Homo sapiens: one gene and its partners. The protein of the gene in region 1 purifies or fractionates together with the protein of each later gene. This does not show direct contact. Each region holds a gene or a part of one and is shown on either strand. Other genes may lie near its edges.

The links. The genes of interacting proteins can lie anywhere in the genome.
Region 2: the proteins of SDE2 (region 1) and HOXB6 purify together in Homo sapiens (affinity purification with mass spectrometry; one large-scale study listed by BioGRID and IntAct). This does not show direct contact.
Region 3: the proteins of SDE2 (region 1) and DTL purify together in Homo sapiens (affinity purification with western blotting, with the first as the bait; one study listed by BioGRID). This does not show direct contact.

The regions. Positions count from the first base shown.
Region 1 is NC_000001.11:225,982,344-225,985,843, reverse strand, and holds the end of SDE2 (splicing regulator SDE2), read left to right. Parts: intron 1-320; coding exon 321-542; 3' UTR 543-3,142; downstream 3,143-3,500. UniProt on the Homo sapiens protein: Inhibits translesion DNA synthesis by preventing monoubiquitination of PCNA, this is necessary to counteract damage due to ultraviolet light-induced replication stress.
Region 2 is NC_000017.11:48,598,619-48,601,986, reverse strand, and holds part of HOXB6 (homeobox protein Hox-B6), read left to right. Parts: intron 1-323; exon of another isoform or gene 324-559; intron 560-1,441; exon of another isoform or gene 1,442-1,540; intron 1,541-3,368. UniProt on the Homo sapiens protein: Sequence-specific transcription factor which is part of a developmental regulatory system that provides cells with specific positional identities on the anterior-posterior axis.
Region 3 is NC_000001.11:212,098,248-212,101,747, forward strand, and holds part of DTL (denticleless protein homolog), read left to right. Parts: intron 1-2,004; coding exon 2,005-2,837; intron 2,838-3,500. UniProt on the Homo sapiens protein: Substrate-specific adapter of a DCX (DDB1-CUL4-X-box) E3 ubiquitin-protein ligase complex required for cell cycle control, DNA damage response and translesion DNA synthesis.

The DNA of each region.
Region 1 (3,500 bases):
GGGGATAGGCTGGCTATATTTTACTGTTTAGATGTTTACTAGAAAAATCGGAAAAGAAAGCAATATTAAAAATCTGTTTGGGAATGCTATACTTCTGTTACTGTTCTGAATGCTTGTTTCTAAATGTATAGATGAAAAATTAGTTATTATGTGTGTTGAGAATACTTATGGAATAACATGTGGATGGATGATGATTAAAATTCAGTTGCAAGGTATGGCAAATTAAATGAAAATTTCTCAAGAAATGTAGTTGACAGTTAAAGAGTCTTTATTCAGAGGAAGGAGCCTGTTTTAAATATTTTCTTATTTTTTTCCCTCAGGTTATTGATAAGGAAACTATAGATTTATTGGCGTTCACCTCTGTTGCAGAACTGGAGTTGCTGGGTTTGGAGAAGCTCAAATGTGAACTGATGGCCCTTGGACTGAAATGTGGGGGCACTCTGCAGGAGCGGGCAGCAAGACTCTTCTCTGTCAGAGGACTGGCAAAGGAGCAAATTGACCCGGCTTTATTTGCCAAGCCTTTGAAAGGGAAGAAAAAATGAGTATCATCAGAGCTGATTCCTATTTGTTTATAGTGTCTACCATTTACAACCTGCATAATGTGGACTCTTGACCAGTATTCCTGTTGATATTAAAAGCTAACTTTTTAGTAACCCAATTCTAACTATCCCCTTTTTCCTTGTCAGGGCTGTAGAATTAATGTCTGAAACCATCTGGGCCTTAAATTTTCTTTGTCTGGTTTTCTATAGTGTATTTAATAAATATAGGGCTATTCACATTTTTTGGTTTGATCTTGGTGTCATTTAGGTAATGAATCTATCCAAGAAATCTATCCTTTTGACCCAGGTTATCAAATTTGTAGACATAAGGTTATTTATAATGGTCCCTTCTTACCCTTTTAATGTCTTTAGGAGCTGTGTTGATAATTTCCTTTTCATTATGATACTGGTAATTTCTGTTCTCACTTTCCTAATCAGGTTGGGTAGGGGTTTATCAGTTTTACTGATCTGACTTTTTATTTTATTTTATTTTTTTTGAGACAGTCTTACACTGTCTCCCAGGCTGGAGTGCAGTGGCGCGATCTCGGCTTACTGCAAGCTCTGCCTTCCGGGTTCATGCCATTCTCCTGCCTCAGCCTCCCCAGTAGCTGGGACTACAGGCTCCCACCACCACGCCCGGCTAATTTTTTATATTTTTAGTGGAGACTGGGTTTCACTGTGTTAGCCAGGATGGTCTCGATCTCTTTACCTCGTGGTCCACCCGCCTCAGCCTCCCAGAGTGCTGGGATTACAGGCGTGAGCCACCGTGCCTGGCCGACGATATAACTTTTAAAGAACCAACCTTTGGTTTTATTTTTCTCAATTGTTTATATAATTAATTTCTGTTATTTTCTTTCTTCTATTTAGCTTGAGTCTCCTTTGATCTTTTTTCTTTAGTTCCTTAAGATAAGCCTTAGGTCATTGATCTTAGACGTTATTTAAAATACATATTTAAAGCTATACATTTTCTTTTAAGCATTACTTTAGTTGCGACTTTACAATTTTATTATGTCGTATTTTTATTATTCAGTTCTAATTTTCTTTTTTTTTTCTTTTTGAGATGGAATTTCGCTTTTGTTGCCCAGGCTAGAGTGCAATGGTACGATCTCAGCTCACTGCAACCTCTGCCTCCTGGGTTCAAGCGATTCTCCTGCCTCAGCCTCCTCAGTAGCTGGGATTACAGGCTCCAGCCACCATACCTGGCTGATTTTTGTATTTTTAGTAGAGATGGGGTTTCACCACATTGGCCAGGCTGGTCTCGAACTCCTGACCTCAGGTGATCCACCCACTTTGGCCTCCCAAAGTGCTGGGATTACAGGTGTGAGCCACCATGCCCAGCCTCTGATTATTTTCTAATTTCCTCCCTCAGTTCTTCTTTGACCCATGGATTATCAGAAGTGGGTTGTCTGATCAGCAAACATTTGTTTTTTTTCCTCTTAATATCTTCTTGTTGCTGATTTCTACTTTAATTCCATTGAGGTCAGAAAATATCCTCTTTATGATTTCAATCCTCTTAGTTTTATTGAGACTCGTTTTATGACCCAATATGTTGTCTGTCATGGTGAGTGTACCATACACAGTTTAAAAGAATGCGTATTTTAGGCCAGGTGTGGTGGCTCATGCCTGTAATCCAGCATGAGATTACATGCTGAGATTACAGCTGTAATCTGTAATTTGAGAGGCTGAGGTGGGAGGATCATTTCGAGACCAGCCTGGGCAATGTATAGTGAGACCATGTCTCTAAGAAAAACAATATGTAATTTGAATTGTTGGGTTAATATGTTTTGTAATATCGATGAGATTAAGTGGTTGATAGTATTGTTCAGATCTTCTATGTCTTTACTGATCCTTTTGTTTATTTCTATCAGGTGCTGAGAAAGGATGTTAAAATCTTCAATTATGATTGTGGAATTGTCTATTTCTTAAATTCTACCAGTTTTTGTATGAAGCTCTAATAACTTATGTCTTCCTAATGTATTGACCATTTTATCATTATGAAATTTCCCTCTGTCTCTGGTAATTTGGGTTTGAAATCTACTTTATCTTATGTGAATATAGCCACTGCAGCCTTCTTAAGCTTAGTGTTTGCACAGTATACCTCTTTCTATTAATTTACTTTGTGCTTCTGTGCCTATTTAAAGTAGTTTCTTTAAACAACATATACTTGAGACTTGCATTTTTATCTGTTCTCTCTGTATCTTTTAATAAGTTTAACATTAAATGTAATTATTAATAGGTTTCTAATTTACATGTTTCCTGTTTAGATAAGATTATTTTATAATTGTATTTTAATTTATTGGCTCTTTAGCTATACTGTTTTAATAATTTTTTTAAGTTGGATGTTCTAGTGATTACAATATACATTCTTAATTTTTCAGTCTACCTAGAGTTGATGTGCCACTTCACATAAAATGTAGAAATCTTGTAAGTATGTACATCCATTTATCATACCTGTCTTTTATGCTGTAGTTGTCATACATATTAAATCTACATATTTAAATATTGTAAGTCCTGTCATAAGTTACAATTTCTGCTTTAAATAATGATATGTATTTTAAAGAAATTAAGAGGAAAAAATAAAATCTTTTGTATTTATTCACATATTTACCATTTCTAATATTCTTCATTTCTTCTTAAAGATCTAATAGCCTTTCCCTTAAGACGGAAGAACTTTCTATAGCATTTTTTGTGTCTCCTGGCAACAAATTAGTTTTCTTTTTCTTTTTCCCTTTTTTTTTTTTTTTTTGAGATGGAGTTTCGCTCTCATTGCCCAGGCTGGAGTGCAATGACACAATCTCGGCTCACTGCATCCACCATCTCCTGGGTTCAAGCAATTCTCCTACCTCAGCCTCCCAAGTAACTGGGATTACAGACATGTGCCACCACACCTGGCTCATTTTGTATTTTTAGTAGAGATGGGGTTTCTCCATGTTGGTCAGGCTGGTCTCAACTCCTGACCTT
Region 2 (3,368 bases), on another chromosome or scaffold:
CCTCCACACCGGCTTAACTCGACCTCCTTCCCAAGAGGGGGTGGCCAGGGCTAGGCTATGCGCCTCTGCTGCAGCGTTTGAATATTGGCCCCTGTCTCACGGGTTACTGATTAGCTTGGGCTTTCAAGCCGTAGGAGGAAGCTCTGGCAGTTCCTTTAAAGGTGCTGTGGTCCCCGTTCCTGGGTGGGGGTGGGGTTCCAGGAAATTGCCTGCGGTGCCAGGCAAACCAAGGTGTTGCCAGAGTCTGGCCGAGGGCTAGAGGAGCTGACGAGGTTAAGGGGCCTGGTGGTGCTGGGGACAAACACTGTGGCTGCAGCCCTCACCCTCTTTCGGCGCCTCTGGAGCAGCTCTTTATAGCTTTCCTGCGGCGAGGTGACTTTCTGGTGGCTATAAGGCCCGACTCAAGGAGCTGCTCTATAGGAGGCCCTGAGGGAGCCAGCCCTAGAAGGTCCTTGGCCCCTCTGAGATTTTGCTTTTGGGCAATCCAAAGGACATGTAGAGAAGTCAAGCTGGTACATGGTATTGAAACACTTCAGGGCCCTCAGGTTGTCCCCTGGACCTGCGGGTAGGAAACCGGGAGAGTGGGTTCAGCACTACTGCTCACTCCCCTAAAGATCAAAGAGGATGCCGCTCCTTTGCATAATGAAAATGAAGTCTTTGTACTTTGATTTGGAGGGGCCGATTTTAGGGCAAAGTGTCTCATCTAAACAGCCTCCCTCAACCTATGGGAGTGATCACTCAGTACCCCTGGGAACATTTATTTATGTTCCCCAAACCCAGAGAAACAGAGTCCAGGACGAGAATTGAGTTGAAATATTTTCATCCCACCCCACCCCAGCCAAAGTTGGGGGTGGTGGGAGAAGGTGCTCATCACCTCAAAGAGCTGAGGGAGAGGGCTTTATAGCTTAGAGGAAATTGGAAGCCTGGACAATGTCTCAGCACCCTCCCACACACACCACACCACACCACACACACACACACACACACACACACACGCAAATATCCCTCCTGAGGTTACCTATCAAGAATTTTACTCCCGAACTGAACACAACTTAGGAAACATTTTCCTGGGAGCTGGAATGTGTTAGCTTGCCCACAGGACTGCAGACTCACAGCATAGAAAATTACAATTATAAATCCTGCCTGTGGGGTATCTGTACAATCCCTCTGTTATGTACTCAAGAATTGGTACACACTTCTATCCATCTCTCTGAACACACACTTCCTCATTGAGGCAGGGAGAGACACCCCAGACTGGCGGATGGCTGAGCCCGCTGTGTATTTACATATTCCCCCAAGGAGACAGACAGAGGGCGGTGGACCGAACCACAGACAGATTCGTAGGGATCTGGCTCCAGAAAGGAGTCGGTCTCTGGCCTGCCCTGCCCGCCTGCTCTTTTTCCCAAACAAACGGATCAGACGAATAAACGCTCATAAATACCTCTGGGCTTAGATAAGAGCGATGAGGCGCTATTTTCTTTCATGCCCGACTCCAGGCGCCCAGGCCCGCCTGTAGTGGCTCCATCTCCAGACAAGCAACCTGCAGAGGTGAGGTTAATTTGGGGGCTGTGACTCTAAAGATAAGGCAATTATTTCCCTGCTTCTGACACAGGGAAATGCTCCCTTCCTCACCAGATCTTATTTTGTTCAGACTTCACTGAGAAAACCACACTATTTAGTGCTAGGATGGAGACATTGTGGGCAGGGAGGAGGCAGGGAAGGCTGAGGCCCAGGGCTCAGCCTCAGCAGTAGGCAGGGAGGTGCATGCAGGTACTCTCTCCCACTTTTCTCCCCCTGTTCAAATGGCCCCTAGTCCTCTCTAGAAGCAAGCCCAGCCATACCTAGATATGGAATATTTATCCTTCTTCATTATCAGGGGGTTTAAATTTGTTTTCTTAAATGCTTATCAAACACTCCCACAGAGTCAGGTTAGGAAGTAATTGGAGGCCATCTAGGGATGGCTATTTTGCCATTAAGGTACAGCCAAGAAGTTGCCCTGAGTTTAGAGAGCCTTGGAGACCACGTTGCAACCAAATAAGTTCCCACCCTTGGTGATCCAAGCTCAGTCCCCTGCCACCTTCCCTAGTGTCTTGTACCATCTTCAGTGGGCAGAACTTGGCCAGAAAAAGGAGCCCAAAGGAAGGACAAGGCAGAGGAGGGTCAGCCTGGCCTGACATCTGACTTTGTTCCATGCCCTGGCCCCTTCTTGTCCCCAGGTGTGAAGGTTGTCACCCTTCACTACTTGGCCTGTGTATGTATATTAGAATGTTGGGAATGCACTGTGGCCCTGTCTCCCAGCCTGGGCTCAATGCTTATTTTCCTTGGATGAAAGAGCCAGAGACATACATTCTCTGACACACCTAAATTTGTAAGGCGGCAAAGCTGATGATACAAACACGGGGTGTGGGAGGGAATTGTAGCGATGCTGAGATACAGACAGAAGGGAGAGGGGATGCTGGCTGATGGCTGGAAGCAGCCTGCTGAGTCCCCAAGAGAACGCAAACGACCTTCTCTCCCTATCAAACTAAAGCAAAAACCAAGTCTTGGGAAAGAATTAATTTTAAAAAGAACTGGCAGCTCCTACAGAGACTTAGAAGAGGAGTGAGGATGCATTTCTTCCCAGTGGTCTCTGACTGCCTCAACTATCAGGAGGGTTCAAAGCCCACAACTGGAAGAAGAATGATTTCTTCCTTGTGCCCAGATTTACTGGGACATCCCTGATTCCTGAAAATCCTATAGCCCAGGCTATTCTTAAGTCTTTTGGGATTGTAGAGGGTACTGGAGTGAGGGTTGCAGGCAGGATAGGGATCAGACAAATAAAGCCACCTAGGCTGAGGGATACCCCTCACTCCTTCACTCCATATCACCAAGTGAGGAGAGGGCTAGTCCCTTTCCCCAGTGCCCCTTCCCCTGCCAAGGGTGAGCAGCTGCATACTAGAACCAGGCAGAATGTTTTGGGCAGCCACCCTCGTCGCCGCCTTCCAAGAAGCTCCTAGTCTAGCCACAGAGTCAGAAGGGGAAGCTTGGGCTCAGTCCCTCCTGCCAGCTCCTCCTCTTCTGGGTCTTCTAGGCAGTGGGATCTGGCCTGCCCCCTCAGACCAGAAGGGTTGTGGAGAAGCAGGAACAATAAGCCGAGGCTTGGAGGAGACAGAGCAGATCTGATAAACAGGAAAAACGATGTTCAAAACCTGGGGAGGAGGGTGTTTCTTCTTTGCTTATCTTAGCGGAGAACTCTTCTCACCTTCTACCGACACAAAACCCTAGAAACAAACCTTCTTTAGTTCTCTCTCAAGGCGATTCGGAGACATTTACCCAACCCTCCCCGGAGAGAAGGGGTCGAAGCAACGCAGGGGTTAACTTTTCTGAAA
Region 3 (3,500 bases), about 14 Mb from region 1:
TCTGGTTGGCCAAGATGTTACAGGCAGTAGAATTAGCTGTTATTTTCTGCTTTCTTGGAGCAGGGTTGTTCTGTTGAATTGCTGTAATGGCTTGAATTGGTTGGCCTCCAGCCAGGAGGTGGCACTTTCAAGAGAGTATCAACTGCAGTAGTATAGCGGGGGATATAAGCTTGCCTTACGGTTTCCTGGATAGGTTTTCGGGCTTCTCAGGCAATGAGCAGGGCCCCACGAGTTTTTGTCTTTTGTTTACGGCTACCAGGGCGGTTAGAGAAAGACCATCTGGTGGGGGCAGGGATAGTGTGTCTGAGCTCAGACTCCTTGGGCAGGGCTTGCTGTGGCCTCTGGGCGATGGGAGTGGTGGTTAACAGGCCAATGGAGTTACGTTCTAAGGGAGATTATGGCTGCCTCTGCTGCTTCATACACATCACCAGGGAAATAGGGGAAAGCCGGCAGTGACAGACCACAGCCAGCAAGGCCAGTCTCACTCCTGCAGTGCTTCCCCAACAGCCAACAGAACCAAATTTATATCCATGCCTCCAGTGCACAGGGTGGAGATCTTGCCCTAGACTACAAAACTCCCCGCCGAGAAAGCAAGCAGGGCTGTTAGGCCTTGTCCATCTGCCTGCCACAGCTTCTGTGCTCATATCTGCACTTCCTATTTGTCCCATCCCCCTGCAGATTCTGCCCAGGAAAATTCACGCTCAGTTGAAATCATTACAAAGTTCAGCTGAAAGTCTCCTTCTCCCTATGGTCCTTCCCCAATTCCATTGGCTGCCCTCTCCAAAGACCCCTGTGAGATAGTCAGAAATGGTTTCCCTGGGGACCAGGAGTGCCTACAGGGCTCTTCCTGCTGCTGCTTCTACTTTTATATTTTGTTTGGCTCTCTAAATTCATTTCAGTTCTCCTTCTCCCATGATCTGGATCCTCAGTGAGGATGTGTGCAGAAGTGGACTTTACCCCTCTCACACTGTTTTTTGTTTGTTTGTTTGTTTGTTTGTTTGTTTTGAAACGGAGTCTCGCTGTCAGGCAGGCTGGAGTGCAGTGCATGCGATCTTGGCTCACTGCAACTTCCACCTCCCAGGTTCAAGCAACTCTTCTGCCTCAGCCTCCTGAGTAGCTGGGACTACAGGTGCACACCACCATGCCTGGCTAATTTTTGTATTTTTAGTAGAGACAGGGTTTCACCATGTTGGCCAGGCTAGTGTTGAACTCCTGACCTCAAGTGATCCACCCACCTCGGCCTCCCATAGTGCTGGGATTACAGGCATGAGCCACCACACCCAGCCACCCTCTCACACTTTGGACCTTGAGAGCTTGTTTGGAGGTTCTAGCAGGGGAGCACATTTACTCGTATACCCTTGACTGAAGACCGATTCTCCTCTTATCAGGAATGGTTGTCCTCTTCGACCAAGCACACAGCTTCGGGAGCCCTCTCACACTTTGGGCACTCAATTTTTCTGCTGTCTTGTGGATTTTGCAGCAGCAAGCCACTTCTTTCAAAGGATCTGTTAATTCTTTTGTTTTTTCTGGTATGTTCCTGTGATAGTTCTTGGAGCCAAAGTTCACTATGTGAGTCTCCACATGCTGTTCTGTCTGTCTGAGTGGCAAATTAGTCCTGCCTCCTATCTGCCACTTTCCCCTTAAATCAGTCTCATTTTTGTAAAGAAAAAAGTTGAGATGTATAGTATGTATCACATGCACAAATATAGAAAGTATGCTAAACATGGTTTACGTAAGTGCTTTAAATTTTTTCTCTTTATGTTTTTCGGTATTTTGTCGATTTTTACAAGTATATATTTTATAATGGGATAGTTGGGAGGTTGGTGACTTGGAAAAGAGAAAGGAAAATGATAAAAGGGTGTGGTTGGAATCAAGTGATGTATACCTACTTACTGGCAAATTGACCCTTAGATGATTAGGTTAGCTATGATTTTTCTTGATGAGAATTTAGGGACTTTGTATGGCTTTCACTTCTGATCTTCATGATCCTCTCCTCTTTTTCAGTAACAGTAACGAGTAGCCAGAGTACTCCTGCCAAAGCCCCCAGGGCAAAGTGCAATCCATCCAATTCTTCCCCGTCATCCGCAGCTTGTGCCCCAAGCTGTGCTGGAGACCTCCCTCTTCCTTCAAATACTCCTACGTTCTCTATTAAAACCTCTCCTGCCAAGGCCCGGTCTCCCATCAACAGAAGAGGCTCTGTCTCCTCCGTCTCTCCCAAGCCACCTTCATCTTTCAAGATGTCGATTAGAAACTGGGTGACCCGAACACCTTCCTCATCACCACCCATCACTCCACCTGCTTCGGAGACCAAGATCATGTCTCCGAGAAAAGCCCTTATTCCTGTGAGCCAGAAGTCATCCCAAGCAGAGGCTTGCTCTGAGTCTAGAAATAGAGTAAAGAGGAGGCTAGACTCAAGCTGTCTGGAGAGTGTGAAACAAAAGTGTGTGAAGAGTTGTAACTGTGTGACTGAGCTTGATGGCCAAGTTGAAAATCTTCATTTGGATCTGTGCTGCCTTGCTGGTAACCAGGAAGACCTTAGTAAGGACTCTCTAGGTCCTACCAAATCAAGCAAAATTGAAGGAGCTGGTACCAGTATCTCAGAGCCTCCGTCTCCTATCAGTCCGTATGCTTCAGAAAGCTGTGGAACGCTACCTCTTCCTTTGAGACCTTGTGGAGAAGGGTCTGAAATGGTAGGCAAAGAGAATAGTTCCCCAGAGAATAAAAACTGGTTGTTGGCCATGGCAGCCAAACGGAAGGCTGAGAATCCATCTCCACGAAGTCCGTCATCCCAGACACCCAATTCCAGGAGACAGAGCGGAAAGAAATTGCCAAGCCCGGTAAGTCAGCAGTGGTGGGAAGATACATTTCCTAACTTAAAAGGGGCCAGACACCCAGATGTCTCAAGTCAGGATGCTTTTTTTTTTTTTTAAAGAAAGAAATCTATTTATTCCTAGTGCTGCCAAATTCAGCACATAAATACAAAACAAATTTTGCATGGGCCATATTTTTAGTAAAAATGTTTTATGCTAAGAAACTATTTTTGTTTGTCTGAAATTCAAATGTAACTGAATGTGCTGTATTTTATCTGGCAACTCTACTTACTCCCATTAAAATCCCTCCTGTCAGGGTCCATACTCCTCAGCCCTGTTGCCTGATTGACCAAAGCCTTCATCATGCTCCAGGATATCAATTCAAAAATATCTCCCCTCTCCTGTTAGACAGTATGCCATCCTCTTTTTATAGATAAAGCTGTTGTTCATGGGAAAGTTGCCAACATCCATAAGTAGATTTCCAGTTTGTAATTCCATTTTGTGATTATTTAAAATACAGTGAAACTTAGATACTTACAAAACAATTTGAGTGCAAAATCTTTCTAGATTTTTATGACTTCTCCACAATCTTTTATAATCATTTTGCCACACCACAGTAATACTTTTGACACCTATATCTATTCTTTTTAACATTCAGTGTAGTGTCACTTATCTTTTTAGGACTCATTT